7 linked regions of the Homo sapiens genome follow. Changing the gene in region 5 together with the main gene of any one other region gives a genetic interaction. Each region holds a gene or a part of one and is shown on either strand. Other genes may lie near its edges.

Evidence for each region.
Region 1: changes in MFAP1 (region 5) and SF3B1 together harm fitness more than expected from each alone (negative genetic interaction), as found in Homo sapiens cells (one large-scale study listed by BioGRID).
Region 2: changes in MFAP1 (region 5) and TIMELESS together harm fitness more than expected from each alone (negative genetic interaction), as found in Homo sapiens cells (one large-scale study listed by BioGRID).
Region 3: changes in MFAP1 (region 5) and TRA2B together harm fitness less than expected from each alone (positive genetic interaction), as found in Homo sapiens cells (one large-scale study listed by BioGRID).
Region 4: changes in MFAP1 (region 5) and PGK1 together harm fitness less than expected from each alone (positive genetic interaction), as found in Homo sapiens cells (one large-scale study listed by BioGRID).
Region 6: changes in MFAP1 (region 5) and TBC1D31 together harm fitness more than expected from each alone (negative genetic interaction), as found in Homo sapiens cells (one large-scale study listed by BioGRID).
Region 7: changes in MFAP1 (region 5) and NUTF2 together harm fitness more than expected from each alone (negative genetic interaction), as found in Homo sapiens cells (one large-scale study listed by BioGRID).

Annotation. Positions count from the first base shown.
Region 1 is NC_000002.12:197,407,508-197,411,802, reverse strand, and holds part of SF3B1 (splicing factor 3B subunit 1), read left to right. Parts: intron 1-1,795; coding exon 1,796-2,033; intron 2,034-3,221; coding exon 3,222-3,434; intron 3,435-3,683; coding exon 3,684-3,805; intron 3,806-4,295. UniProt on the Homo sapiens protein: Component of the 17S U2 SnRNP complex of the spliceosome, a large ribonucleoprotein complex that removes introns from transcribed pre-mRNAs.
Region 2 is NC_000012.12:56,421,927-56,426,221, forward strand, and holds part of TIMELESS (protein timeless homolog), read right to left. Parts: intron 3,227-4,295; coding exon 3,089-3,226; intron 2,988-3,088; coding exon 2,836-2,987; intron 1,969-2,835; coding exon 1,871-1,968; intron 1,782-1,870; coding exon 1,658-1,781; intron 1,550-1,657; coding exon 1,348-1,549; intron 1,067-1,347; coding exon 921-1,066; intron 266-920; coding exon 180-265; intron 91-179; coding exon 1-90. UniProt on the Homo sapiens protein: Plays an important role in the control of DNA replication, maintenance of replication fork stability, maintenance of genome stability throughout normal DNA replication, DNA repair and in the regulation of the circadian clock.
Region 3 is NC_000003.12:185,920,678-185,924,972, reverse strand, and holds part of TRA2B (transformer-2 protein homolog beta), read left to right. Parts: intron 1-988; coding exon 989-1,177; intron 1,178-2,846; coding exon 2,847-2,962; intron 2,963-3,785; coding exon 3,786-3,869; intron 3,870-4,295. UniProt on the Homo sapiens protein: Sequence-specific RNA-binding protein which participates in the control of pre-mRNA splicing. Can either activate or suppress exon inclusion. Acts additively with RBMX to promote exon 7 inclusion of the survival motor neuron SMN2.
Region 4 is NC_000023.11:78,121,248-78,124,747, forward strand, and holds part of PGK1 (phosphoglycerate kinase 1), read left to right. Parts: intron 1-1,587; coding exon 1,588-1,702; intron 1,703-1,947; coding exon 1,948-2,127; intron 2,128-3,500. UniProt on the Homo sapiens protein: Catalyzes one of the two ATP producing reactions in the glycolytic pathway via the reversible conversion of 1,3-diphosphoglycerate to 3-phosphoglycerate.
Region 5 is NC_000015.10:43,817,396-43,821,690, forward strand, and holds part of MFAP1 (microfibrillar-associated protein 1), read right to left. Parts: intron 54-4,295; coding exon 1-53. UniProt on the Homo sapiens protein: Involved in pre-mRNA splicing as a component of the spliceosome.
Region 6 is NC_000008.11:123,075,281-123,079,575, reverse strand, and holds part of TBC1D31 (TBC1 domain family member 31), read right to left. Parts: intron 2,466-4,295; coding exon 2,319-2,465; intron 1-2,318. UniProt on the Homo sapiens protein: Molecular adapter which is involved in cilium biogenesis. Part of a functional complex including OFD1 a centriolar protein involved in cilium assembly.
Region 7 is NC_000016.10:67,866,917-67,871,211, reverse strand, and holds part of NUTF2 (nuclear transport factor 2), read right to left. Parts: intron 2,873-4,295; coding exon 2,801-2,872; intron 2,712-2,800; coding exon 2,613-2,711; intron 413-2,612; coding exon 299-412; 3' UTR 1-298. UniProt on the Homo sapiens protein: Mediates the import of GDP-bound RAN from the cytoplasm into the nucleus which is essential for the function of RAN in cargo receptor-mediated nucleocytoplasmic transport.

The sequences.
Region 1 (4,295 bases), on a different chromosome or scaffold from region 5:
TTTTAAGGGAAAAACTATTGAGTCTTAAACTTGTTTAATGGTACCATGCAAATTTGCAAACATAAAGGTAGATGAAGTCCTTGTGTCTATAAGAGCTCCCAACTTTCCCAACTTTTTTTCTTTTTTTTTTTGAGACGGGGTCTCACTCTGTCGCTCAGCCTGGAGTGCAGTGGTGCTATCTCGGCTCACTGCAAACTCTGCCTCCCGGGTTCACACCATTCTCCTGCCTCAGCCTCCCGAGTAGCTGGGACTACAGGCACCCGCTACAACGCCTGGCTGATTTTTTTTGTATTAGTAGAGACGGGGTTTCACCATGTTAGCCAGGATGGTCTCTATCTCCTGACCTTGTGATCCGCCCGCCTCGGCCTCTCAAAGTGCTGGGATTACGGGTGTGAGCCACCGCACCCGGCCAAGAGCTCCCAACTTTAAAACAAATATATAAAGTACATTACACATCCTGTGGAATACTTACGAGGCAGTATATAAGTACAAATTTTGTTTTCTTTACACTCAACTCTATGCTACTTTGATATGATACTATCTTTATTGGTGGAGATTCTTTTGCTATTACATGCAGTCAGTTGTCCAACTATTACTCTCTGTTTGAACTACTGTGGAACCCTTGATGTTACTTAAACCCACCTCTCAGCCTGGGCAGCATAGTAAGACTCTTATCTCTCCAAGAAATAAAAAATTAACTGGGTGTGGTGGTGTGCGCCTGTATGTAGTCTCAGCTACTCAGGAGGCTGACATGGGAGGATCACTTGAGCTTGGTAGGTGGAGACTGCAGTGAGCCGTGATTGTGCCACTGCACTCAACCTGGGCGACAGAGTGAGACCCTGTGTCAAAAAACAAATGAAAATCCACCTCTCATCTTTTTTCATTAATCTTGCCAGCATCAGCTAGGGTAATATTATTTGGTACACATGTAACTGTACATACAAACTGATCTCAAGATTGAAATCATGTGACGGTATCTGGTTATAATTACATAGGTGGGGCCTGGTGCGGTGGCTCACGCCTGTAATCCCAGCACTTTGGGAGGCCAAGGTGGGTGGATCACGAGGTCAGGAGTTCGAGACCAGCCTGACCAACGTGGAGAAACCCTGTTTCTACTAAAAATACAAAAATTAGCCCGGCGTGGTGGCAGGCACCTGTAACCCCAGCTACTCAGGAGGCTGAGGCTGGAGAATCACTTGAACCCGGGAGGCAGAGGTTGCTGTGAGCCAAGATCATGCCCCGGCACTCCAGCCTGGGTGACAGAGCGAGACTCTGTCTCAAAAAAAAAAAAAAAAAAAAAATTACATAGGTGATCTAAAGCATGTTTATATTAATTAAACACACACAATTAAACAAAACATCAACAGGACTATTTTCTTAGAACACACGAATTCCTTCTCCCCTAAATATGTGTCTCTAAGCCCCACTTTGAGAAGTACTAATGTAATTAGAGCTGAAAGCCTTCGATTACTGATCTAGATAGAGAAACCTCAGTGATTTCCCCCAGTCACAGAGCTATTAATGGCATATCAAAGATTCATATCGATAATATTTTGTTTTTTTAAGCTGGGACTTTTGTCAGTGCTTCGGATTGAAACTTTACATTGTTTTTAATCATAAACATTTGCTAGAAAGTAGGTATCTTTTCCTATAAGTAGAGGTAGTGTCTTCTAACTTTTCATTAATTATAGTGCATAGAACTAAAACATTTTTCGTTTAAAGTTTTTTATTTTATGGAAATTTTCTAATTATTTCTGTGTGGGTGTGTGAAATAAAATTTTTTTGCTTTTTTAAGACCCCTGGGCATACTCCTTCCTTAAGATGGGATGAGACACCAGGTCGTGCAAAGGGAAGCGAGACTCCTGGAGCAACCCCAGGCTCAAAAATATGGGATCCTACACCTAGCCACACACCAGCGGGAGCTGCTACTCCTGGACGAGGTGATACACCAGGCCATGCGACACCAGGCCATGGAGGCGCAACTTCCAGTGCTCGTAAAAACAGATGGGATGAAACCCCCAAAACAGAGAGAGGTACTTCTAGTGGAGTATGGGTGTGTGGGTGAAATGTTGAGTGATATGTTTACAGACTGAAATGTGTTCTGTTTATTCCTGGGTGGACACGTATAAATAACCAGCTGCTTTTGGGGGACAGATTAAGAATAGAACAGTTCATATGCCTAATTTTTTCCACTTCTTGAAGTGGTTTAAGATTTAAGGAAGAACCTTAGGTAAAAGTAAAGTTAGTAGGCTGTAACCTTTGATTTTGTGTGTTTCTTTAGAGATAGGGTCTTGCTCACTGTAGCCTTGACATCCTAGGCTCAAGTGATCTTCCCACCTCAGCCTTCTTAGTAGCTGAGACTATAGGGGCATGCCACCATGCCTGGCTAATTTTTTTTTTTTGAGATGGAGTTTTGCTCTTGTTGTCCAGACTGGAATGCAATGGCGCGATCTCAGCTCACTGCAACCTCCACCTCCCGGATTCAGGCGATTCTCCTGCCTCAGCCTTCCTGAGTAGCTGGGATTACAGGCATGCGCCACCAAGCCCGGCTAATTTTGTATTTTTAGTAGAGACGGGGTTTCTCTATGCTGGTCAGGCGGGTCTCGAACTCCCGACCTCAGATGATCTGCCCCCCTCGGCCTTCTGAAATGCTGGGATTACAGGCATGAGCCACCGCTTCCGGCCCCTGGCTAATTTTTAAATTTTTTGTAGAGACAATGTCTTGCTTCATTGCCCAGCCTGGTGTTGAACTCCTGGTTTCAAGTGATCTGCCAAAGTGTTGGAATTACAGGCATGAACCACTGTGCCTGACTTACCCTTTGTTTTTTATTATGGAAAAATGTACATAACATCAAATTTACTTTTTTTGTTGTTGTTGTTGAGATGGAGTCTTGCTCTGTCACCCAAGCTAGAGTGCAGTGGTGCGCTCTCGGCTGACTGCAACCTCTGCCTCCCCAGTTCAAGTGATTCTTTTGCTTCAGCCTCCTGAGTAGCTGGGATTACAAGCGCCCACCACCACACCTGGCTACTTTTTGTATTTTTAGTAGAGACAGAGTTTCATCATGTTGATCAGGCTGGTCTCAAACAACTTTAAATGGGTCACCATTTTAGGAATATTCTATTTTAGAACTTGATAGTTTTGAGTATAACTGTTTGAGAATAAAGAATATTATTTTAACAGTGATTAAAATTGTGGTTTTACTCACTCTTTCTTTTTAAAGATACTCCTGGGCATGGAAGTGGATGGGCTGAGACTCCTCGAACAGATCGAGGTGGAGATTCTATTGGTGAAACACCGACTCCTGGAGCCAGTAAAAGAAAATCACGGTGGGATGAAACACCAGCTAGTCAGATGGGTGGAAGCACTCCAGTTCTGACCCCTGGAAAGACACCAATTGGCACACCAGCCATGAACATGGCTACCCCTACTCCAGGTAGAACTGTCTCATTGGACATAATTGTTTTTTTCTCCATAAATTATTTAATTTTTTCCTTTGTGGTATTCTGTGTACTATTAATGTCAACTTCTAGTAAGAATAAGGAGATATACAAATTTAAGTCTTGGTTTGCGTTTATAATATAAAAGCAAATAATAGGATTGATCTTAACTGTCTTTTATCTCAATGTATGTAATAATACAGTCTTGTACTATAGATTATATAAAAATTTGCTTTTCTTGGTAGGTCACATAATGAGTATGACTCCTGAACAGCTTCAGGCTTGGCGGTGGGAAAGAGAAATTGATGAGAGAAATCGCCCACTTTCTGATGAGGAATTAGATGCTATGTTCCCAGAAGGATATAAGGTAGTACATCAAATTTGAATGAGGTGGTATTTAGGATATACATTTATTTTAAATAGTGAAAAAAATTGATTAAGCTTGCATTGGCTTTGCCCAAATTTACTATTGTCATTCCATTCTCTTAGCTATTTCCAGGTATATTTCAGTTCCATATAGAGATGAAAAGAAATGAACAACATGAAACTTTTATTACTTTTTGAAAGACATCTCAAAGACTTGTGTATGGGTCTATCGGTTATACTTTGAGAACTGCTGGTGCTTCAGTTTTCTAGCAGTCCCAGGAATAAGCTCGTTGAGATTGTGGTTATTTTACTTGGTGCTTCACCAAGATTTTATATACTTAAGTTTATGGATTGTCAGTGGACACAAAGAATTTTTTTTTTTTTTTTTTTTTAAAAGATGGAGTCTCACTCTGTTGCCCAGGCTGAAGTGCAGTGGCGTGATTTCGGCTCATTGCAACCTCCGCCTCCCAGGTTTAAGCGATTCTCTTGCC
Region 2 (4,295 bases), on a different chromosome or scaffold from region 5:
GTCCCATCTGTACCAGATGGTGGATGATCTGCTTGCGTGTTCGAGGAACAGTATTCAGGTGGGCCAAGATGGCTTCCACCACATCCTGCCCTGGCGTGGGGAAGGACTAAGGCAGTAAAGAAGGTCCCACAGCTCAAGCTGCCCTCCTCATAAACTCTCCAGATCCCAAGGCCTCTCACCTTCCACGTCCTTATTGGCGAGGTACAGCTCCCGAAGATGAGCCTCTTCTTCGGGGCTCCATGTAGGTGCTCTGCGACTGGAAGACCTGAATGGTGAAAGGAGAAAGGGAGCATATAGGTTCTTGGCCCAAAAAGAGGAGACCAAAGGCCTTCTCTGATCAGTTCTGAAAAGAACAGGAAGGACAAGGCAGGTAACTGAAAGAGGCCAGCCAGCAGAGGCCTACAGTGTGCCTCCTTCCCCTCACTTTCCTTCCACGTAAGAACCTAAAAGTCAAACTAAGAGATTTTCCAGGTTGGGCCAATGGAACCCTGACCATTCTGACTCTAGGGACTGAGAATATTATGGGAAAAAGAGACTAAGTGTGAAAGGAGAGGGGCTGAGATACTAAGGGAAAGAGGACAAACATTTCTACAAATCCTCATGGTTTCCCAGCACATTTTGGGAGAGGTCGCACACAGACTCCCTCTGGGCAACCACCCAGCTCCCAACAGTGACTACCTCTATGGAGGCTGGTGATGGAGAAGGAAACTAGATACACACTAGACTTAGGCTCCAGTCCCTGCTCCTCTCTTGGATAACTTTAGGTAAAGCATTTCACCTCCTGAGCCTGTTCTCTCACCCATAATAGGGAAAGAAACAGTGGGCTAAATGACATGCAAGCTCTTAACAGCTTTGACATTCTGTGACTCTGCATCAAACTTCCCCTACCCCCACCCACCCTTTGCCAACTTCAAGCTCACCTGTCATCCAGGGAGCCATAGCCCTCAGTCATCTCTCGAACCACAGCTGTGTTCTTCCAGAACAACAGCTCCACAAAGGCTTTTTGGTTGACTGCAGCCAGTGCAAAAAATTTGCCCAGGATGTATTTGGCAAAAGTCACTAGCTCCTGTAGGAGAAGGAGGTTACTATGAGGCCTCTCTGGTCCAATGCAGACCCGAACCTGGCCCTCTAGGTATTTTCTCTATAGCTGTTCCCAGCTGCCCCCTCCTCACTCACTCTCTTCTGTCCTTCTCCATGCAGCTCCCTCAACCTGCCTGTCTACTTTCTCATTGTTTTCCCATCTCCCAGCCCTTGACACCTCTCAGCACCTTCTATCTCCTGAAGATTATTTATTTACCTGAGGGTTCCCATACCCTTCCAGAACCCCATTCCTTGTTATCCCCTCACTTTGTAGGCTCCAGCAGCAGGGTCACTAAGCAGACGATTGAAGAGGCAGAAGACTGACAGCTGAAAAAGTAGGGCTTCCATTTTGAGGTCATGGGCCAGCCGGTGCAGCATCTTCACAATGCAATGGTTAGTGTGGGCACTATTCTGCTGGTAGCTCCTTAGTAGCAGCACATAGGCTCGAACGACAGTTGAACATGCAAAGCTGCACCAAAACAAGGAGGGAGAGGATGTCAGCATAAGGAAGACATAGCTCATCCTCACAGCCGCACAATCGCCACTCTAGGACCAACTCAGGCCTCTCAGCCCGCACCGTTTCAGGTAGTCCAGAAAATTAAATTCTTTCTCCGACACCTGGACCACTTGCAACTCCTCCTCTTCCTCCTCCTCCTCCTCTTCTTCTTCCTCTGCCCCACGTTCCTCTGGGCCCTGCTGCCCTATAGACAGAGGGAGGATTACTGAGTCTCTGTTATGTTGGTGCTAGAAAAGAGCTGGAAGGAGACAGATGTGAAGGGTGGAGACTCACGGGGAAGTGGAGCAGAGAGGATTTGTTTCAGCAACTGGATCTCTTCCTCTGGAGAAATGTCTTGAGAGCCAAACACATCTCCTTCAGGCCACACCTCCCTGGAGCACAGATAGAAAAAAGGCTTTACCCAGGGGAAATCTGGCTTTAAATTTATAATTCGAAGTAGAAGAAGGAATTTAGACTTATTTCTTTTGTTGGCCAGAAACAGAATGCAAACTGTTACCTCAAATGAAACAAAGACTCCAGGGAAAATTTTCCTCATAAGCCACAATTCAATAAAAACCAGCTAAGAACAAAATGCAAACAATCTAAATGTTTGACACCTGGTTGAACAAATGTACATATTCACACAATGGTGTTTTAAAGCCATTAACAATTACAGAAATATATCTGATGAGAAATCATGCTCATAATATACTGAGAAGTGAAAAATTACTATAAATCAGCATGTACAGTATTTCATTTTTGTAAAACAAGGTATATACGATATTTTTACATGTAACGGAGCAAAAAAACCTCTGGATGGTTACTCATCAAAATGTTAATGATGCATATCTTTGGCTACTAGAATTAAAGTTAAGTCCGCCCTTAATGTCTTCAATAGGTTCTTGGATACTGCCACTTTAAGTGAAACAATGTATAACAAAACCAGTTTTTTTTCTCTTAACGTTATAAGAAACATGCCGTAGGTCATTTTACTCAAAGCTGCAATTACCAAGGACTTATTGATGATGTCAAGTGAGGATTTGCTTTCTTTATTTTTTTCTCAATTAACTATGCTTTTTTAATGTTTTTCAGAAACAAAAAAACCCAACAAACCAATCAAAACGCCCCAGGAGTCAGTTGGTATACAGTCCCAGAGCCTTGATGAGACAACTCTCTTTTGAAGACTGAGAACACTGTACCGCAGTGATGGCCTCCTCCTTCCCCCAAAGCCCAAGAGGATGAGCAGGCAGGGTTCTTACCGAGCAGACCTCAGGAGAGTCAGGGCCTGTGGGGCCTGGCCAGCCAGGAGACAGTCTTGGATCCGTACCATAGCTTCTGCCCGCTGCTCCTCCACTGGCACCTCTGAGGCCGCATCAAAGGGAACCACGGAGTCCATGCTGAGCTCAGAATTCTAGAGATGGATAAAGCTATGGGAGCGGAGGGAGTGGAAAACCCAGATTGTATACCCTGAGCACTATTCTCAAAAAAGACAGGGTTTCTGTAACCACCTACCTGGGCACAGCACTGTAGCTGCTCAGCCAGGGCTGGCCACACAGCCTCCACTTCTTCTGGGCTAGATGGGACATTACCAGAAACAATGGCCTGGTCTAGGACCTTCTTCTTCTTCTTCCTTCTCTTCTTTTGTTTGTTCTGTGGGGAAAGAATTGTATTAGGATGTCAAGAGAGCTAAAGAGGGCTTTCCCCATCAGTGTCTTTTCTATTACAAAACTAATTAACTGGACATTCACAGAGTGCCCATTATCTGCTATCCATCGGTAATAGAAAGCAATAGTGAACAGCATATTTCCTTCCCTTTGAGGAGCTTTTACTCTAGTGGTGGAGACAGGAAGTAGAAAGGTAATTACACTAGAGTGTGGATAAAAGCTATAATGTGAGTGAGCATAAGATGTCATGGCAAAACTCCTGACCCATTTCCTGAGTTCAGAGGTTTGCCAAAAGCAGTGCTATCTCAAGAGGTCTACAGAATAAGCAGATGCTATGAGGATCAAATAAGACACATGGAAAAGCTTCATAAAATGCAAAGCACTATGTAAATAAAGCCTCTAATTTTTTCTCCTGAAAAGTAGGACAGCCAGGCGCAGTGGCTCACACCTGTAGTCCCAACACTTTGGGAAGCCTAGGCAGGTGGATCGCTTGAGGTCAGGAGTTCAAGACCAGCCTGGGCAACACAGCGAGACCCTGTGTCTACAAAAAATACAAAAATTAGCCAGGCATGGTGGTGTGTACCTGTAGTCCCAGCTACTTGGGAGGCCGAGGCAGAAGAATCGCTTGGGCACGGGAAGGAGAGGTTGCAGTGAGCTGAGATTCAGCCACTGCACTCCAGCTTAGGTAACAGAGCGAGACCCTGCTTAAAAAAATAAATAAATAAATAAATAATTAAAAAAAAGAAAAGCAGGAGAGTGAGTCAATACCCAAATCCTGCTTCTCCCAAGTCAGGGCTGTGAACCAGTCTTTGGTGTGGGTACTGAAAAGTCAAACAGGATGAACTGAGAGGCCCCTGAAGGTCATGCTCCATTAAAGAACTTACAATCAAACACACCAAAACTTAGGAGCATGGAGTCCAGCAGATCTGGATTTGAGTATTGAATTAGTATTACTAACAAGACTTTGGACAAGTTGCTTAACCACTTTGGGCACATGCGCTACTGTGAGGATTACATGAAAACGTCAGCACAGTGTCTGACACACAGTAAATGCT
Region 3 (4,295 bases), on a different chromosome or scaffold from region 5:
TGCAGGGGGGGACTTAATGTTTTTAGAGTAGAGTAGAATTTTTCCCTAGTAAATTGTTAGTTTATGAAATAAATGGAATCTTTAGGTAAATTCATCACAGCATCTGGAATGTTAGCAACATATGGCTCACTCTTTATTCTTTCCTCTTGTCATCTTTTTTTGAGACAGGGCCTCACTCTGTCGCCCAGTCTGGAGTGCAGTGGTGCAATCTCAGCTTACTGCAGCTTCTACCTTGCAGGCTTAAGCGATCCGCCCACCTCAGCCTCCTGAGTAGCTAGGACTAGAGGCATGCCACCACACCCAGTAATTTGTTATATTTTTGTAGAGACATGGGGTCTCACTGTGTTGCCCAGGCTAGTCTCAAAACTCCTGAGCTTCAAGCAGTCCACCAGCCTTGGCCTCCCAGAGTGTTTGGATTACAAGCATGAGCCACTGCGCCTGGCCAACTCTTGTTTCTTACGATTGCAAGCTGTTTATGACCTGTAAAATGGTTTGGTACGCATCCCCTCAGGCTTCGTTTATGTACTTACTTGTGTATTGTGTTTCTGAAAAAATCGAACCATACATGCTCATCTTTTTGGCAATTCAGAGCATTCTATTGAATGGAAGGTGTGTCAACATTACAATTTTTTCTAGCTGATAGACACAGTGTGGTTCCAGTTATCCTTGTATGTCATGTTATGAATATGTGAATTTTTCTTAGAATAAATTCATAGAAGGAAAGATGCCAAGTTGCTTTTCGCCAGCACGAGTGCTTGTTTACCTACTTAATTCTAAGGTTGAAATTTTTTCTTTTGCATTCTTTCCTACCCATTCCCAAAAATACTTGTAGTACTTGCTGTAATTTTGTAATTTCTAAGCAGTGTTTGGTCTAATCATTATGTACTTTTCTTGTTAGTGACATTTTGGCTAGTATACAGCTCCCTTTTTAAACAACTTTGATTTTATGACAACTTTTCCAAAGTTTAAAACTTTTTTTTTTCCCTAGGCAAATCCTGATCCTAACTGTTGTCTTGGAGTATTTGGGCTGAGCTTGTACACCACAGAAAGAGATCTAAGAGAAGTGTTCTCTAAATATGGTCCCATTGCCGATGTGTCTATTGTATATGACCAGCAGTCTAGGCGTTCAAGAGGATTTGCCTTTGTATATTTTGAAAATGTAGATGATGCCAAGGAAGTAAGTAAAAGCCCGTTCCTTTGTAAACCATCAGTTCTATTGTTAACGCCAAGTTATCAGTGACCAATTGCTAGGATAAGGACAAGGACAAGTCAGTAATACTTCGAACTTTTTCTCCAACCTCTTGTGGAGACTCAAGATACATGCAGAATAACAAAATTTTGTATAACTTGGGGAAGTTGGTCCTACCACCTGCTTTATTAGTTGCCACCTATTGGGGTCAACTATACCCCAATTCCGCCAGGATATGTAGTCAGTGTTTACACTGGGTTCACATTCTAGAGTCAAAAATAACCAAAAGCAAAGTTATGATGCAGAAGGAAAACATTGTTCCTTTTTTGGCTAGTGAATGATGTCATATTTGGATTTTGATTTGTTTTGAGGCAGAATATAGAGTCAAGATTTGAAATGTGGGGCTAGACCCCATTTAAGAAATTCAGATTTTAGGTACATTAAGGATGGTAGCTAAAGTCATCTCCAAGTATAGAGAAGAGGAAGAACTGAGAAACACTTAATGACAAACGGAGTTTCACTCTTCTTGCCTGGGCTGGAGTGCAATGGCGCGATCTCCGGCTCACCGCAACCTCCGCCTCCTGGGTTCAAGCAATTCTCCTGCCTCAGCCTCCTGAGCAGGTGGGATTACAGGCTACCACACCCAGCTAATTTTGTATTTTTAGTAGAGACGGGGTTTCTCCATGTTGGGTCAGGGTGGTCTCGAACTCCCAACCTCAGGTGATCTGCCCCCCTCGGCCTCCCAAAGTGCTGGGGGATTACAGGTGTGAGCCACCATGCGCGGCCGCCCATTTCCTAATTAAATTTTTGCAGTAGGATCATAGCTCTCGGAAAATAGCATAAATTTTATCTTAATCTCTAGTGCCAGAAACTGCCTGGGCGTAAACACTAGCTTGAACATCTGAACTAGAAGATAGCATAGTATTGGAATTAGAAACTTAAATTCTATTTAGGTGAAAGGATGTTTCCTCAAATTATGAACAAACTTTAATGTGTTTGAAACGGGGTATTTTTATTTTTTAAATGTATGCTGTTAATACATACTTTGGGAAAAGGAACTATATGTACTTAAGGCTGTGCTTCAGTCTTAGCTTTTGGCTTCCAGAGAAGGGCTAAGAAAACTTCCAAGGGTTAAATAATGTGTTCAGGTTTCAGTCATAGGATCTCAGTCGCAACTATTTAACTCTGTTGTTTTAACCCAACAGCAGCCAGATGAATGAGTTGGGGCCCTATTCCAATAAAAGATTATTTTGGGGCATTGGAATTTGGATTTTGTGTGTTTCTTCACTTGTCATGAAATACTGTTTTTCCCCCTAGTTATTTAAATTTTTAGCTTATGGGTTATACAGAAACAGCCAGCTGGCCAGATTTGACCTACAGGCTATAGTTTGCCAATTGTGTGCTGCTTTGGAGCTGGAAATACTGTCAGGATCATAGTTAGGTAAAATAATTGTTTCAAGTTTTTATGAGTAGCTTTTACAAATGAACATTTAGTAGAGGGAACAACACATTTGTAAGTTGTAGACCTTACGTTCTGGCTAACATTAAGATAACTTAATGCACCTAACTGAAATGTCCAGTGGGATCTTACTCATAGCCACAGGATAATTAGTGGCTTTGTTCAGGATGTATGTAACAATTTATTTACCTTTTGAAGGCTAAAGAACGTGCCAATGGAATGGAGCTTGATGGGCGTAGGATCAGAGTTGATTTCTCTATAACAAAAAGACCACATACGCCAACACCAGGAATTTACATGGGGAGACCTACCTAGTAAGTTTATTTTCAAAATAAATATAATTGGCAGTTTTTCACTTGTCAAAGAAACACTTGTATTAGTGGAAAGTCTTCAGCACTTAGGTTTGTGCCATAAACTTGACTGTTGATTGATTAAATGCTCCTCATTAGGGCATTTTTCTCATAGTAGAAGTTCAACCATTACAGGTAAAACTAAATCTTAGTCAAGTCCATTTTTAAATTTTTTGTTTGTTGTTGTTTGGTTTTGTTTTTGTTTTGTTTTGAGACGGAGTCTTGCTCTGTCGCCCAGGCTGGAGTGCGATGGTGCAATCTCAGTTCACTGCAACCTTCGCCTCCTGGGTTCAAGCAGTTCTCCTGCCTCAGCCTCCCGAGTAGCTGGGACTACAGGCGCGTGTCGCAACGTCCGGCTAATTTTTTGCATTTTTAGTAGAGGCAGGTTTTCACCATGTTAGCCAGGATGTTCTCGATCTCCTGACCTCATGATCTGCCCGCCTCGGCCTCCCAAAGAGCTGGGATTACAGGCGTGAGTTGCTGCACCCGGCCTAAATTTTCTTAAATAGAGCAAAGTGATACTATTTTTGTTTCCTCTTAGAAATATGTGGGATATGCAGATTGACCTCTGGCAGGATCTGTGTGCCTCCTTAACCAAAGATTTTTAAAAATAGGTTTATATATATTGAAACAAGGGAAAGGGCAATGTTTGCTCAATATAGGTGAGAATTTTAACAGGAATAATTTTCATTTTCCAGTTAATGTGTCAGAAAAGGCCTACTAGTAGATATAAAAACTCATGTCCAGAAAGATAAGGGAGGTCACCTGAATATTTTTTTCTTCATAGTGGCAGCTCTCGCCGTCGGGATTACTATGACAGAGGATATGATCGGGGCTATGATGATCGGGACTACTATAGCAGATCATACAGGTAAGTTATGAGGTAGAAAGGTCAACGTCTGAATCTCAGTACAGTGTACAGAGCAGCACTATGCTTAAGTTTTAGCCTTTGTTAAAAGCTTTGCTTTAGTACTTTTACTCGAGAAATGCAGAGTAGAAAGTTAAATCAGATTCTAAGGTTCTGTGTCTTAATCAATTTAATGTGTAACTGGATTTCTGTTCAAATATTCTAGAATATAAATGGGATTTAAATGATAACTTGGAATATTAATAATAAAATGTGTTTTATTTTTAAACATTGAATGAGGCCAGGCGCAGTAGCTCACGCCTGTAATCCCAACACTTCAGGAGGCCAAGGCAGGCAGATCACCTGAGATCCAGCCTGGCCAACATGGTGAACCCCGTCTCTACCAGAAATAAAAATTTAGCCGGTTGTGGTGGTGCACGCCTGTAGTCC
Region 4 (3,500 bases), on a different chromosome or scaffold from region 5:
GCATTGCCTTTGGCTGTTAGGTATCTCTTGTAATAATCTCCTATTTATTACTTTCATTCTGTTGATTTGTTGAAGAAACAGGCATTTGAGCTGTAAGCTATTCTTTAGAAGAAATTGAACTCCTTTCTAACTGCTTTCTTCCCTTTGTGTGTGTATGTGTGTGTGTGTGTGTGTGTGTATTTAAAACAATCTATCTTTACCCTTGGTGGTAACCAATCTTTACAACTGAAATAAATAGTAAATAGTTTCTTGCCATCTGTTCACCCACATCACTGTTGTTTCATACCTCCTTTTCACAAATCCTAGCATAGGGTTTCTCACTGGATAGGCATTATCTTGTTTATTGAATGAAGAAGGAAACAGACACAAGGTGGTTTGTCCACGTAAGTGGGATTTAGTTATATGGGAATGTTTATGGAAGGCAGGCTATTACTTTGTTTCTCTTTAGTTTGGATCTTTTTTGTCTCATAGGGAGATGCAAGATACATGTGTATTTATCTTATTTCCATGTACTAGAAAATAAGATCCCAAAGGGTAGGGATCTTTCTGTTGCCTTTGCCCTGTGATGTTTCTCAAAGACCTAGAATAGTGCTTGGCACAGAGTAGGTGCCCAGTAAATGTGTTGAATTGGGTGACCCAATAAAAATAAATGCCATAAAGAAAATGTCCCAGGCTGGGCATGGTGGCTTAGGCATGTAACCCTAGTGCTTTGGAAGGCCAAGGCAGGAGGATCACTTGAGCTTAGGAGTTTGAAACTAGCCTGGGCAACATAGTGAGACCTTGTCTCTACAAAAAAATTTAAAAAGAAAAATTATCCAGGGGTAGTGTTGTACGCCTGTGGTCGCAGCTACTTGAGAGGCTGAGGCAAGAGGATTGCTTGAGCCTAGGAGTTCCAGGTTACAGTGAGCTATGATTGTACCACTGCACTCCAGCCTCGGCAACAGAGTGAGACTTTGTGTTGAAAAGAGAGAGAGAAAAAAATGTCCCAGCAACTGAGCATAGGGTATGACTTTAGGAATATATATTTTTGTTCAGTATATATTTATTTAGTATACAGTCCAGTCAATCCCTGCTCTAAGGTTAGGATAATTCTGAGTGGCTCTGGGATCCCACAATTAGCAATCGTGCTTAGATACAATTAGCAATCTTGATGCTCTGAATTTGTGTGTGTGTGTGTGTGTGTGTGTGTGTGTGTGTGTGTGTGTTGGGGAATGTGCAAAATAGATGTGGAACCCATAGTTTCCTTAGACAAGAGTAGGTCTTCTGAGCCCTGCTTAAAAAAAGAATATGGATTTAAATCTGTTGTCCATCAGCTTCTAGGTAGAATTAAAAAAAAATGTATTGATGGTAAGTGGGGTGAGGAATTTTTAAAAAGATACACTGATGTCTGGAGCCATACCTTAAAAGGATTTCTTAGAAATGGATTGAGTTTTTGGGTTGGAGAAACATAGGGCAAAGTTAGGCAGTACTTTTGTCACTTTGAGACTTTCTCTGTTCCTGTGCCTTGAAATAGAAACTCAGTTTCTATGTAATACCACTTCTCTAGTCCATTCTTCTTTAAGTGATGATTCTTGCTTTCTCTTGTAGAGCTAAAGTTGCAGACAAGATCCAGCTCATCAATAATATGCTGGACAAAGTCAATGAGATGATTATTGGTGGTGGAATGGCTTTTACCTTCCTTAAGGTGCTCAACAACATGGAGGTAGGAAACAAATGCCAAGTGGATGTGAAATAGCTCTCCATGATAATAGCAGGTTGTATAAATGTAAAAAGAAAACAGTCTTTTGACATGAGCCCTGAAAATTCCCATTTTTATTTATTTTGGCAAGTCTTTCGTCTTTGCATTGTTCCTTTATATTGTATTGTGTCTGGTTCCTGTCTGCTTTGTGAGGCAGTCTTGTTCTTAGTATAGATGCTGACCTCCATCATTTTGGCTCCCCTGTGTAGATTGGCACTTCTCTGTTTGATGAAGAGGGAGCCAAGATTGTCAAAGACCTAATGTCCAAAGCTGAGAAGAATGGTGTGAAGATTACCTTGCCTGTTGACTTTGTCACTGCTGACAAGTTTGATGAGAATGCCAAGACTGGCCAAGCCACTGTGGCTTCTGGCATACCTGCTGGCTGGATGGTGAGTCACTTGAGTGGGTTGGTAGTGTGAGTGAACAGAAACTCTGTGGTGTCATTTATTCATTGATTCAGCCAATCAACAAGCATTTTAAAACAATCTCTATAGGAGATCTGTCAGAGAGGGCTCTGCATGTTGCAGTGAGTCCCTCATGGAAGAATCCATGGGAGAAAAGCAGTGCTATTGGATTACTGGCCTTCAGTAATGCAGTAATGTGTTGCAAAACTTTGTTGTTGTTGTTTTTTTTTTTTTTTTTGAGACAGAGTCTCGCTGTGTCACCAGGCTGGAGTGCAGTGGCATGATCTCGGCTCACTGCAACCTCTGCCTCCCAGGTTCAAGTGATTCTCCTGCCTAACCCTCCCCAGTAGCTGGGACTACAGGTGTGCACCACCATGCCCAGCTAATTTTTGTATTTTTCATAGAGACGGGGTTTCACCATGTTGGTCAGGATGATCTCAATCTCTTGACCTCATGATCCACCTGCTGCGGCCTCCCAAAGTGCTGGGATTACAGGCGTGAGCCACTGTGCCCGGCCCATTTTTAGTTTTATCTGTTTTTTCTTCATCTGTTTAATGTGTATTAAGTACTTACTGCGTACTGGAGATAGTGTCATGTACTTTCATGGTTTGGGTTGTTTTGGATTATGTTGCTATCTAGAAAGCTATATAAGAAAACTTTCTCATATGAAAAAATTAAGTATACTGATTACAAGCAGGGAGAAATGTAAGTGTATATTAAAGACTAATATAGTTGATTTTAGGGTGCTCCAAATATCATTTTGATTGCTGTATAAAATTGTATCATGTTTTTACATGCTAGTTTGCTTATTTTTCTTTTCAGGCATTCACGTATTATTTAGTTCAGTGTTTCTCAAAGTATGTTCCTAAGACCAGCAGTATCAGTATCATTTTTGGAACTTGTTAAAAATGCAAGTTCTTGGGTCCCACCCCAGACCTACCGAATCAGGAACTGAGGGTGGGGCCAAACAGTCTGTTTGAATAAGCCCTCCTGGTGATTCTCATGCATGGCAAAGTTTGAGTACTACTGATCTAGTTTACTGTCATTCCCAACACTATTGACATCTGTTGTTTTGTGGGGGACTGTTGAATTGTAAGGTTGTTTAAAGCATCCTTGGCCACTAGATGCCAGTAGCACCCTCCCAAGTTGCAACAACAATATTTCTAGACATTGCCACATGCCTATCTATTATGAAGGGGCAGAACTGACCTGGTTGAGAACCATTGATCTAGTTTTCACTAACATAAATAGTGTGGCTAAGAATGTCTTTATTAAATAACTTTTGAGGTTTTCCGTTAGACTTGATCTTCCATACAGTAGAATTTTTGAGTATAAAGGGCATGAACAGGTTTATAAAG
Region 5 (4,295 bases):
CCTTTTTCCGGACACATAACGCTTTACCTTCACTTTTTCCATTGAAATCTCACCTGGGCGAGAAAGGTAACTTATGTTTCAGTAGCCTCTTTCTCAATGTGCTTCAACCCATCACGGCCTTTGCAAATAGAGCCCTTTATTCATAGTAGACAAGAGTCTAAGCAGAAGAAGAAGAGAGCCACTACCCAACCATCTACTCTTCTAATGGTGTTTTCCTACAAAGGCCAAGTCATGAGACTGCATCCTTGTGAAAGCCAACACTGATGATAATGAGGCTTACCTTGAGTACAATGAAGTAGAGGAAGGTAGGCAGTGAAACAGTAGAAAAAAGTCCCCCCCCAAAAAGGCAGACTGCATCCATCACAAATTCATGGTATCCCACCTCAACTATACCCTTAAACAAATTATTTGTAACAGTGCCCAGCACATAGTAAGGGTAATTTCTGCAGGAACATAAAACTGCTCAGGCATTCTTGTAGTTCCCTCTGGAATTTCCATGGCAGCCTTTATAACATACTGCCACATGACTCAATATTCTAATCTTACCTATTTCTACCTTCTTTTCCTTTACCTTATGTGTTATCAAACATGCAAGAGTATGTAATCTCTTACAAATACAATTCTTTTTTTTTTTTTTTTTTTGAGACGGAGTCTCGCTCTGTCGCCCAGGCTGGAGTGCAGTGGCGTGGTCTCGGCTCACTGCAACCTCCGCCTCCCGGGTTCAAGTGATTCTTCTGCCTCAGCTTCCTGAGTAGCTGGGACTACAGACGCATGCCACCATGCCCAGCTAATTTTTTGTATTTTTAGTAGAGATGGGGTTTCACCGTATTAGCCATGATGGTCTCGATCTCCTGACCTCATGATCCGCCCACCTCAGCCTCCCAAAGTGCTGGGATTACAGGCGTGAGCCACAGCACCCAGCCTACAAATACAAACAATTCTAGTGAACAAAGACAGTGAAAACTAACCAACTTATTTTATGAGTATAACCTTGATAACCAAATTGGACAGTTCAAAGGAAAACTTTAGGTGGATTTCACTTACAAACACAAATACAAAAATACTAAATAACGTAAGAGCAAATTTATCCCAGCAATATAAAAACTACCAAAAAAAAAAAAAGAAACAAAAAAAAAAAACCCCTAGACCAACACAACTTATTAGAATTTAGCCCAAGACTAGAAGGATAGTTTGACCTTAGAAAATTAATGAGGGGGCCAGGTGCAGTGGCTCATGCCTATAATCGCAGCATTTTGGAAGGTTGAGGCAGGAGGATTGCTTAAACCCAGGAGTTCGAGACCAGCCTGGGTTTAGACCTCATCTCTACTAAAAACAAAAAAAATTACCCGGACATAGTGGTATATGCCTGTGGTCCCAAGCTACATGGGAGGCTGAGGTGGGAGAATCACTGGAGCCCAGGAGGTTGAGGCTGCGGCAAGCCATGACCACACCAAGGCACTCACTTTAGCCTGAGTGATAGAGTGAGACCCTGTGTCAAACACAAAAATATATATAGCTGGGCACAGTGGCTCATGCTTGTAATCCCAGCACTTTGGAAAGCCAAGGTGGGCAGATCAGTTGAGGCTAGGAGTTCGAGACCAGCCTGCCCAACATGGCAAAACTCCGTCTCTACTAAAAATACAAAAATTAGCCAGACATGGTGGCACAGACTTTTTAATCCAAGCTACTCAGGTGGCTGAGGCAGGAGAATAACTTGAACCTGGAAGGTGGAGGTTGCAGTGAGCTGAGATCGTGCTACTGCACTCCAGCCTGGGCAACACAGTAAGACTCTGTCTTTAAAAACAAAACAAAACAAAACAAAATTCCAAAAAAAAATGTACATAGATAGATAGATGAACAATGGGAGGGAAGCAATATACTATTTTTACTTTTTAAAATTTTATTTTTGTTTGTTATTTTTTAAAAGGTAGAGAAAGGGTCTTGCTATGTTGCCCAAGCTGGCCTTGGACTCCTGGCCTCAAGTGATCCTCCAGCCTCAGTCTCCCAAAGTGCTAGGATTACAGGTGTGAGCCATCTCTCCTAGCCTACTATTTTTTAAAGTCACATTTTTAAAAAATAATAGATACAGCAGACTTTATACTTAATGATAAAACAATAGAAACATTCTATTTATTTATTTATTTATTTTTTTTGAGATGGAGTCTCGCTCTGTTGCCCAGGCTGCAGTGCAGTGGCATGATCTCCGCTCACTGCAACCTCCGCCCCCTGGGTTCAAGCAATTCTCCCTGCCTCAGGCTCCTGAGTAGCTGGGATTACAGGTGCCCACCACCATGCCTGGCTAATTTGTGTATTTTTTAGTAAAGACAGGGTTTCAACATGTAGGCCAGGCTGGTCTTGAACTCCTGACCTCAGGTGATCTGCCAGCCTCAGTATCATAAAGTGCTGGGATTTCAGGTGTGAGCCACTGTGACTGGCCAGAAGCATTCTCTTTAAAAATCAGTGGGCATCCAGCTGGGTGTGGTGGCTCACGCCTGTAATCCCAGCACTCTGGGAGGCCAAGGCGGACGGATCACAACGTCAGGAAATTGAGAACATCCTGGCTAACACAGTGAAACCCCATCTCCACTAAAAAGACAAAAAAATTAGCCAGGCATGGTGGCGAGTGCCTGTAGTCCCAGCTACTTGGGAGGCTGAGGCAGGAGAATGGCGTGAACCCGGGACACAGAGCTTGCAGTGAGCGAGATAGCACCACTGCACTCCAGCTTGGGCAAGAGAGCGAGACTCCGTCTCAAAAAAACAAAAAACCAAAAAATTAGCCGGGTGTGGTGGCACGCACCTGTAGTCCCAGCTACTCAAGAGGCTGAGGCAGGAGAATGGTGTGAACCCAGGGGCGGAGCTTGCAGTGAGCCGAGATCGCGCCACTGCACTCCAGCCTAGGCGACAGGGTAAGACTCCATCTCAAAAAAAACAAACAACAACAACAAAAAAAACCAGTGAGCATCCTAATGTTGTACCTATCACACCTTCTAGTCAACACTGTATTATGGTTCTAATTTGGGCAATAAGGAAAAGTTATAAGGATTTAAAAGGAAGAAACTGCCATAATTTGCAGATTATATGGTTGTCTTTGTAGAAAACACAAGATAACAAATAGATAAAAGAGTTCAGAAAAAATGCTAGATAAAAAACTTATTTATAAAAATAAGCATACCTGTACATTAGCTACATATAATTAGAAAGTACAATTTTATTTTTATTTATTTTCTTGAGACAGGGTCTCACTCTGTTGCCTAGGGTGGAGTGCGGTGGCGCAATCATGGCTCACCGCAGCGTCAGCCTCCTAGGCTCAAACCATTCTCCTGCCTCAGCCTCCCAAGTAGCTGGGACTACAGGCGTGCAACACCATGCCGGTCTAATTTTTAAAATTTTTTTGTACAGACGAGGTCTCACTATGCTGCCCATGCTGGTCTTGAACTCCTGGACTCAAGTGATCCTCTTGCCTAGGGCCTCCCAAAGTGCTGGGATTACAGGCGTGAGCCACCATGCCTGGCTTATTTTCTACTGTTTGAGAAAGGGTCTCATTCTGTTACCCAGGCTGGTGTGCAGTGGCATGATCACAGCTCACTGCAGTCTCAACCTCCTGGGCTAAAGTGAGCCTCCCTCTTCAGCCTCTCAGTAGCTGGGACTACAGACAGGTACCACCCAGGTAATTTTGTTTTTTTGTAGAGCACTGTATTTTTTGGGGTCTCGCTATGTTGCCCAGGCTGAAGAAAATATAGTTTTAAAATACCATTAACGGTCACAAGTAATCTATAAGATACTGTGGAATAAATCCAACAAACAATGTACAAGGCTTTTAGGAGGAAAAATATGTAATTTTATTGAAAGATAAAAAAGATGTAAATAGAGAAATATTTCATGTTCAAGGATGAGAAGATGGCAACTGCACCTGAATTAACCTATAAATGTATAATCTATCATTTTAATGCAATTCCATTAAAAGTTGTCTCCAGGCTTATTCCAAAATCATATGGAAGAACAGGAGGCCCCAAAATGCCAAGACAATGCTGAAGAAGAATAAAGCTGATGGGGGCGGGGAAGGAGGGGTGGGGCATAGTTTACCAGATATGTCAGTGACCCAGGAAGTACACAGAGATCAATGTAACAGAGAAAAGAAAAACAAACTTATATGAGAACTCGAGTATATTATAGGGATGGCATTAAAAATCAGTAGAAAATGGATGGGGTGAGAAGGGACAATTGGCCAACCATATAGTAAAATTAGACCTCTAACTTCCACCACAGACACAAAAATTCCAGATGGATTAAAGACG
Region 6 (4,295 bases), on a different chromosome or scaffold from region 5:
TTATTTTTTTCAGAAGTATTAGCAAATAGACAGTGGTACTGATTTAAGATTAGGAATTGGTGAGGTAAGTTAAGCAAGAATAAAGGGTAGAAAAGTTGGGCCCATTACTTTTTTGGTAAAGGGCAGAAACAATGATTTACAGATTTTTACCTAATGAATCACAGAGAAGTAAATTATATGTCACATCTTTTCTTTAACTATTTAAGTTACCAAGATCAAGTTTCCCATAATAAGAAAACTCTCCTACATAATCACAATATAACCATCAGCACCAATAAATTACATTTATACATTACCACCATCTAATCCTAAAACTCCAATCAAATTTTGCCAATTTTCCTAATAAGTTCTTTATAGCAAAAGGATCAGTCCAGATTCATGCCTTTGTCATGTCCCTTTCATCCCCCTCAGATTAGGAGTTCTTTAGTCTTTACCCAACTTGCATGATCTTGTCCCTTGTAGAGATATCAGCACAGTTTTGTTATTAGATGTCCTTAATTTAGCTTTGTGTGATGATCCCACTGATTAGATTCAGGTTATATATCTTGGGAGGAATATCACAGAAATGATGCCGTGTTCTTTTCACTGCATCCTATCAGGTGGCACACAAATTTTGATTCATTCCACTACTAGTTATATTAACTTTAGTCATTTGATTAAGGCAGTGTTTGCTAGGCTTCTTCATTGTATAATTTTTTTTCTTCTATAATTAATAAGTATTTTGTGGGGGGGTACTTTGTGACTATTCAATATCCATGCCTTACTAAACTGTTTGTATACTGGTTACAACATGAACTCATAGATTTCAATTTTATTCAATGCATGACCCATCTCCAATATGACCAGAGGGAGCTCCTTCAAGCTGGCAACTGTGTCTTTTTGACACATCCCGAACATTCTTTGAACAATTCCTTCTTTCTGGCTACAAAATGTTACAGGCTCATCCTGTACTTTCCCTGTCTGCATTCTGAAATTGGCCATTTTTGCAAATATCCTTGATTCTTTTTAGTAGAAAGTGGTATTTTGAAAACAAGAACTCAACACCGGGTATATTCATTGCTGCTGGCATGCTGTTGCTCCCAGGCCCTCTGGGTGTACGAAGCTAGGGAATGTGTACATATATGTGTACATACCTCTATTTAGTGCTATATCTATCTCTATATATTCAAAACCAGGGGTTCAAACTGATATATCTAATTCCAATACAATACCATGGGGTTTATTCTAGTTTTCTGCCCTCCATATATGTAAGTCTCTTTTCTAAGAGTGAGAAACTTGGCCCTCATTATCCCTAATATATTTAGTTGATCAAAGCCCCCTGTATTAAACTAGCTTCCCATCACTGCCCCATTCGCTATGCAGACACCCTCTGCCTCTCTGCTAGGCTGCTGCAGCTGTCCTTCCCTCTTAGCCCCGCTGCATGAATACCTATCTCCATCAATCCCACCTAATTGCTTTCGGACTAAATTGTTTCACAAGGGAAGAGAAGAGGAAGAAGAGTGAAAACCAACTTTTTTTTTTTGAGATGGAGTCTTGCTTTGTCGCCCAGGCTAGAGTGCAGTGGCAGTGGCACGATCTCGGCTCACTGAAACCTCCACCTCCTGGGTTCAAGTGATTCTCTTGTCTCAGCCTCCCAAATAGCCAGGATTACAGGCGTGCACCTCCACACCCAGCTAATTTTTGTATTTTAGTAGAGACAGTGTTTCACCACGTTGGCCAAGCTGGTCTCGAACTCCTGACCTCAAGCGATCCGCCCGCCTTGGCCTCCCAAATTTCTGGATCACAGGCCTGAGTCACCACACCCAGCTGAAAATCAATTCTTTAAAATTCTTAGATCTGGCACCCCACAACAACAATGTGCAAAGAAAACTGTGTTATTTCTACATTGCCTCATGATGTACCAGAAATTGACAAACTAGCAACTATGGGCTGGGTGCGGTAGCTGGAACCTGGGAGGCGGAGTTTGCAGTAAGCTGAGATCATCCCACTGCACTCCAGCCTGGGCGACAGAACAAGGCTCCGTCTGAAGAAAAAAAAAAAAATTAGCAATAATAAATTTTTAAATTTAAGAAAAAAAAAAGGAAACTACTAGAGATACTATTAAAACCAGCACTTTAATTCTTTAAAATGTGAACCATGTTATCATTCTGTTTTTTCCCACTTTCGTCCTTTAGCACTTATGACAGTATTTTGCAAGGTACCTGAAATATAATAGAACTTAATAAATCTTTCTGAATGAATAATGAATAGCAGGTACGAAAACAGTCAGTGAATTAATAACTTGTTAAAGAACGTAGATATCAATGGTATCTGCTTACCTGTTTCCATGTAAGTCAAAAACATAAATATTTCCTTGGTGGTCCCCAGCAATTAAGCAGTCGCCTGTGCCATCAAAAGCCACATTCAAAAATCGCAAAACTTTTGGATGGTAATCGGAAGTGTTGTGAATAATGTTCACTATAATTCTGTCAAAGAAAAAAACCCAAACATTGAATCTATGTCACGTATTACTTGATATTATGAAAAATATGGCAAGTAAAGCATTTCGTCTGTTCATTCTTCCCTCTCCTACTGCTACCGCTATACCCCCGCTCCTCTAGAATCAATCTTACCAGGATTTCAGAAAAACAGGTCAGAAGCTACTCATTATCAAAATAGCTACTGTTTATTCATTCATCAAATACTTGAAAACTCACTGTGTCAGACACAGAACAAGCCAGGTGCTAAGAATAATTGATATGGTCCCTGCTTTCATGGCACTTACAATTTAGTAGTAAGGACAGATATTAAAAAAATAAACACACATATAAACAGATTTATAAACTGTGATTAAGTGATAACAACAGGGTATGAGATTTTGTTTTTGTGTATGGAATGTTTCACAGTGAATTACGCGTGCATGAGTTTTACTTCCATTTCTAATGTATCTACCATGAATACCCTGGCAGGCGAGTTCTGTAAGGACAGGACCACTGCTTGCTCATTACTGTACCCCAGCACCTGGCCTACAACACACAAAAGACACTCAAAATATGCCTGCTGAATGAACAAATGCTTTAAGAAATCATTCTTTAAAACCCACATTAATCATACTGCCATATAAAACAGTAAGGGAGCTTATTTTTCAATCTTATTCTGGAGACACATATGTAATGATTAAACTTAAATGAAAACGAAAATATTCTAACCTGAAGTTTTAAACACTGATACACACACACACACACACACACACACACATACACACAATTAAAAGAAAAAATAAAGAAGAAAAATCAAAACCAAACACGTCTCCAGAAAAATTTCAAAAAATTAGCCAGGCATGGTGCATGTGCCTGTGATCCCAGTTACTCAGGAGTCTGAGGTGGCATTATCACTAGAGCCTGGGGAGGTCAAGGCTTCAGTGAGCCATGATCATGCCACCGCACTCCTGCCTGGGTGACACTGTAAGACCCTGTCTCCAAAGGAAAAGAAAAATACGTATAGGGAAAAAAAGATGAATACAGCTAAATATTAACAGCAGCTGTCTGCAGGTAATAGCAATATGGTTAATTTTTTTCCCCTTTCTACTTTTCTATCTTTTAGACATGTTATTTAATGATTACATACTATTTTCATAACAGGAAAGACAAGAATACATGTGTTTAAAGTTACCCTTTTTGAGAGAAGGATTATATACCCTGTATCTGTTGAAAGAAAATTTATAAAATTAACTTACAGCACAAAATAACTCCTTAAAATAATATATGTGCGTATATTCTCGTCACAAAGATCAGAATAATCCCATTCTTTATTGCAACAATAGTTTTTAATCATGAAAATTTTATCTTAATTGATTTTTCATAAATTTTTGGATTTTGTTTTATTTTTTTTTTTGAGATGGAGTCTCGCTCTGTCACCCAGGCTAGAGTGCAGTGGTGCAATCTCGGCTCACTGCAATCTCCACCTCCTGGGTTCAAGTGATTCTCCTGCCTCAGCCTCCTGAGTAGCTGGGATTACAGGTGCACGCTACCATGCCCAGCTAATTTTTTGTATTTTTAGTAGAGACAAGGTTTCACCATGTTGGCCAGGCTGGTCTCAAACTTTTGACCTCGTGATCCTCCCACCTTGGCCTCCCAAAGTGCTGGAATTACAGGCGTGAGCCACTGCACCTTGCCTAGTTTTTGGATTTTATATTAGAAACATCTATCTTCATTATAATTTCATTAAAGTATACTAAATTGAATTAAGTGGATTAAACATTTTCTCCATGTGTATCTAAACATAAGGCTTTTTAGACTCACTAAAGGAAATAGCAA
Region 7 (4,295 bases), on a different chromosome or scaffold from region 5:
GTTACTAGAGCAACTTGTCAGTAGATTAAAAAAAAAAAAAAAAAAAAAAGGACAACCTTTTGCATTACTTAAGTCTTTCCAAGGCATGCGCTGGTACAACACAAACTTCTCCCGTCAGATGCAACTAGTCTAGCATCCAAACATCATGCACAACACCTCAGTGGCAGCAGCGCACTGCGCCCACTCCCACCGCGGCCCTGCTCATTTGTGCATGATATTTGGAGCATCTGGAGGAGTGGGAATAGTATTGGGAAGAGGAGGGAGGAGGAAACAGCGTGAGTGCCTAGCTGAGAGGAGGTCAGCCAAAGTTGTGCAGGGCGAGCCTGAACATGTCATTGGTGCAAACCCAAGCATCGTTGATGTTCTTTAATAGGAACATCTGGTGGAACCCCATGATGGGGTCTTCATCCGCCTATGAGGAGAGAAAAGAGGATTCAGTAAGGGGATCAAGAAACAGGAAGGGAATTCAGTGGTAGGAGAAGAGGGCAAAAAAATGTTGACTTTAGGATCAGGCCCTACTGTCCTGAACTCAAATCCCAGTGTAGCCAAGGGGTACTTGTGAATGTGAATTGATGTAATGTATGAAACAATGCCCTGGGCACATGTAGGCCAACAATCAGCCACGCCTATGTGTGCTATGTGTGCTTAAACTGCACAATAATTCACCCTTAGCTACAGCAAAAGAGCAGAGGATGTACCTGCCTCCAAGCACATATCTCCAGACACAAGTGATCACAATTTTGAAACGAATCCCATAGTATTTACCAAGTAACTTATAGAGTATCAAAAAAACTGCAAACAATCTTGAAAACATAGGTTCACTATCCAATGATGTTTCCTGTCATGTAATAAACAGTATTTGAGATGAAAAAAAAGGGCAAGAAACCTGCAGCCAAACTGCAGAAAACTAGGATGAGACCTAGTTGAAATAGGAGCCTAGCTAACCAGCACTGTCTCTAACATCACCTGCTTTCTGGGAATTATCGTCATCAAGGAGGCAAATCAGTTGTTTGGGAGCTCCAAATTGGACAGAATCACCAGGAAGAACCTGAAGCCGGTGGGAAGCAGCAGTGTTTACTACCTTTGCCTGAGAAAGTGAACAATGAGCTCCCTACAGAGACCTCCTGAATTCTGTGCCTCTTCAGGCACAGGCACTGAGCAGGACATCCTGAACAGGCAGGAGAAACTGACAGGAAAGTCCAGGCCAGAAAGCAGGTGCCTCTGCGTCCACTGCAGAGGCCCACAGGACCACCTACACACCCACTCTGGACTCAGGAAGCCCTGTCCCGGCTAGCCTAGAGAAAGAGAGCATGTGACCATGTTATTGTAAGACACAAGCCCAGGCCGAGGGGCAGCCAATTTGTCCTGCTATTTTTGGGAAGAAGGGTGTTTTTGTAAACAGAATCTGGCTTTATTTATTTATTTAGAGACAGAGTTTCACTCTTGTTGCCCAGGCTAGAGTGCAATGGTGCAATCTCAGCTCACCGCAACCTCTGCCTCCCAGGTTCAAGCGATTCTCCTGCCGCAGCCTCCCGTGTAGATGGGATTACAGGCATGTGCCACCATGCCTGGCTAATTTTGTATTTTTAGTAGAGACAGGGTTTCTCCATGTTGGTCAGGCTGGTCTCAAACTCCTGACCTCAGGTAATCTGCCTGCCTCGGCCTCCCAAAGTGCTGGGATTACAGGCGTGAGCCACCGCGCCCAGCCCAGAATCTGACTTTAATATGCTGAAGCACAACAGGTCCTTGGAGAGTTCTTGGGGGGTCTGAGGGACCACAGGAAGTCTCTGAGAATAATAGGTCTTGAGAAGGAGGAAGGAAAATGCAAAGAGAAATAGGTGGCTCACGCCTATAATCCCAGCACTTTGGGAGGCCGAGGCAGGTGGATCACCTGAGGTCAGGAGTTCAAGACCAGCCTGGCCAACATAGTGAAACCCTGTCTCTACTAAAAATACAAAAAATTATCTGGGTGTGGTGGCGGGCAGCTGTAATCCCAGCTACTTGGGAAGCTGAGGCTGGAGAATTGCTTGAACTCGGAAGGCAGAAGTGTAGTGAGCTGAGATTGTGCCACTGCATTCCAGCCTAAGCAACAAGAGTGAGACTCCGTCTCAAAAAAAAAAAAAAAAAGAAATAGGAGTTCCAGGAATCTGCTTTGCTCAGCAGGCAAGGAGCCAGCAGCCAGCCTGAGGAGTGGTAGCAAGGGCTGCAGGAGTGGACTGCCTCTCCGCACCCAGCTAGCCTGTCCACCTTGACCTTAGGGCAGAGTGGGAGCCTAGTGGCTTGGCACCCCAGTCCCATCCTACTCCTATACTTCTCCCTTTTCCAGATAAAGGCTCTAGACCAGTGTCTGCCAATAGGACTTTCTACAGTCACAAAAATGTTCTATATGGCTAGTACAACCGAAGAAGTACATTTTATTTAATCTTAATTAATATAACTTAAAAATTGCCACCTACATGTGGCTAATGGCTAGCATACTGAACTACGCAGCTCTAGACAGTCACTTTGTCTGGGTGTCCCTAGATAAGCAGGTCACATCCACAGGGAAAGCAGGGGTACAAGACTCTCCTCTGCCTGCCCACCCCTCCCTACCACTGTGGCAGTACCATTACCTTAAGCTGGCCCACAACCATGCTGATGATGCAGCTATCTGGAGTGGGCTGATGGTCCTGCGCGGTGATGCTGTGCTGAATTTTCTGGAACGGAAGGCTCTACAAGAGAGAGAGTGGGAGGTGGGAGAACCAAGGCCAGAAGGGGTGGGAAAGGAGCCACCTGCACCCTGGCTTTCTTCCCTACTTACAGACAACTTCTCCACAATGGCAGCTTTCCCCTGGAACTGTTGTCCTTCCCACGTAAGGCATGACGCGTCAATCTGAAAAAGGCACAGGAAACCCCAGGGTTGGGGCCTCAGAGTACAAGTATCTCTAAGGCCCTGGAAAGACTCTGAAAAGGGCCTTGCTTGGAGAAGTGTGGCCACACTTCAGTTTCCCTGTCTAAAGAAGGAGACTGAGTATAGCCCCCAAACATTACACTATCAACATCTTCTACCCCATTGACCCTGGGCCCAGGCTTTGAAAGACTATTTAATAAAATATACTTCCCATTTGTATTTAAGAAGTCATATGGTCTCTGATATGCATAGGCCCAGGAGGGCTATATTGGCCTGAGCTCAGCCATCCTGCTGTGTGGTCAGTCAGTGTCAGTCCCAAAAGGTCATCAGAAATGTGGCCAGGCACGGTGGCTCACGCCTGTAATCCCAGAACTTTGGGAAGCCAAGGCGGGAAGATCACGAGGTCAGGACATCGAGACCAGCCTGACCAACATGGTGAAACCCCAACTCTACTAAAAATGCAAAAATTATCCAGGCATGGTGGCGCACGCCTGTAATCCCAGCTACTTAGGAGGCTGAGGCAGGAGAATTGCTTGAACCCAGGAGGCGGCGGTTTGTAGCGAGCCGAAATCGCACCACTGCACTCCAGCCTGGGTGACAGAGCAAGACTCCATCTCAAAAAAAAAGTCATCAGAAATAACTTGGAAAAATTCCACATTCATCACCCTCCAGGGCCGAGGCTAAGTTCCACTGTGGACTTTCTAGCTAGCCTTCTGGATACCCATGGGGTCAGGGAGAGATAGAGGCTGACAGGGCCTTCCAAGGCCTAGTCTGGGACCCTCCCTACCACCAAGAAGCAAAATCTCAAATGTAACCCACTTAGCTTAGTTCCACCTCAAATCTTCCCTTCCACAGCCTTCAAGGGCAGAACTCAAAAGGGCTTCTGCTGCTTACTAGCTGTGACATTAAGTAAGTTATTTCTCTGAGTCTTAGTTTCCTAACCTTCAAAGGGGTAATGTGCTGAGTATTATGAAATAATAAATATAAATTGTTCTTTTAGGACCTTGCTAACTCTCTTCTCTGGCTCAGGCCTGCTTTAAGAGATAATGAGGCCAGGTGCAGTGGCTCACACCTGTAATCCCAGCACTTTGGGAGGCCAAGGTGGGTAGATCACTTGAAGTCAGGTGTTCCAGACCAGCCTGGCCAACATGGTGAAACCCCGTCTCTCCTAAAAATACAAAAATTAGCTGGGCATGGTGGTGCGTGCCTGTAACCCCAGCTACTTGGGAGGCTGAGGCATGAGAATTGCTTGAACCTGGGAGGCAGAGGATGCAGTGAGCCAAAATCGCATGAATGCACTCCAGTCTAGGTGACAGAGTGAGACTCCATCTCAAAAAAAAAAAAAGGGAGAGTGATAATGAGGCACAAGTGCCAGGATCTCAGGTCAGATCACTTCAAGGTTTCA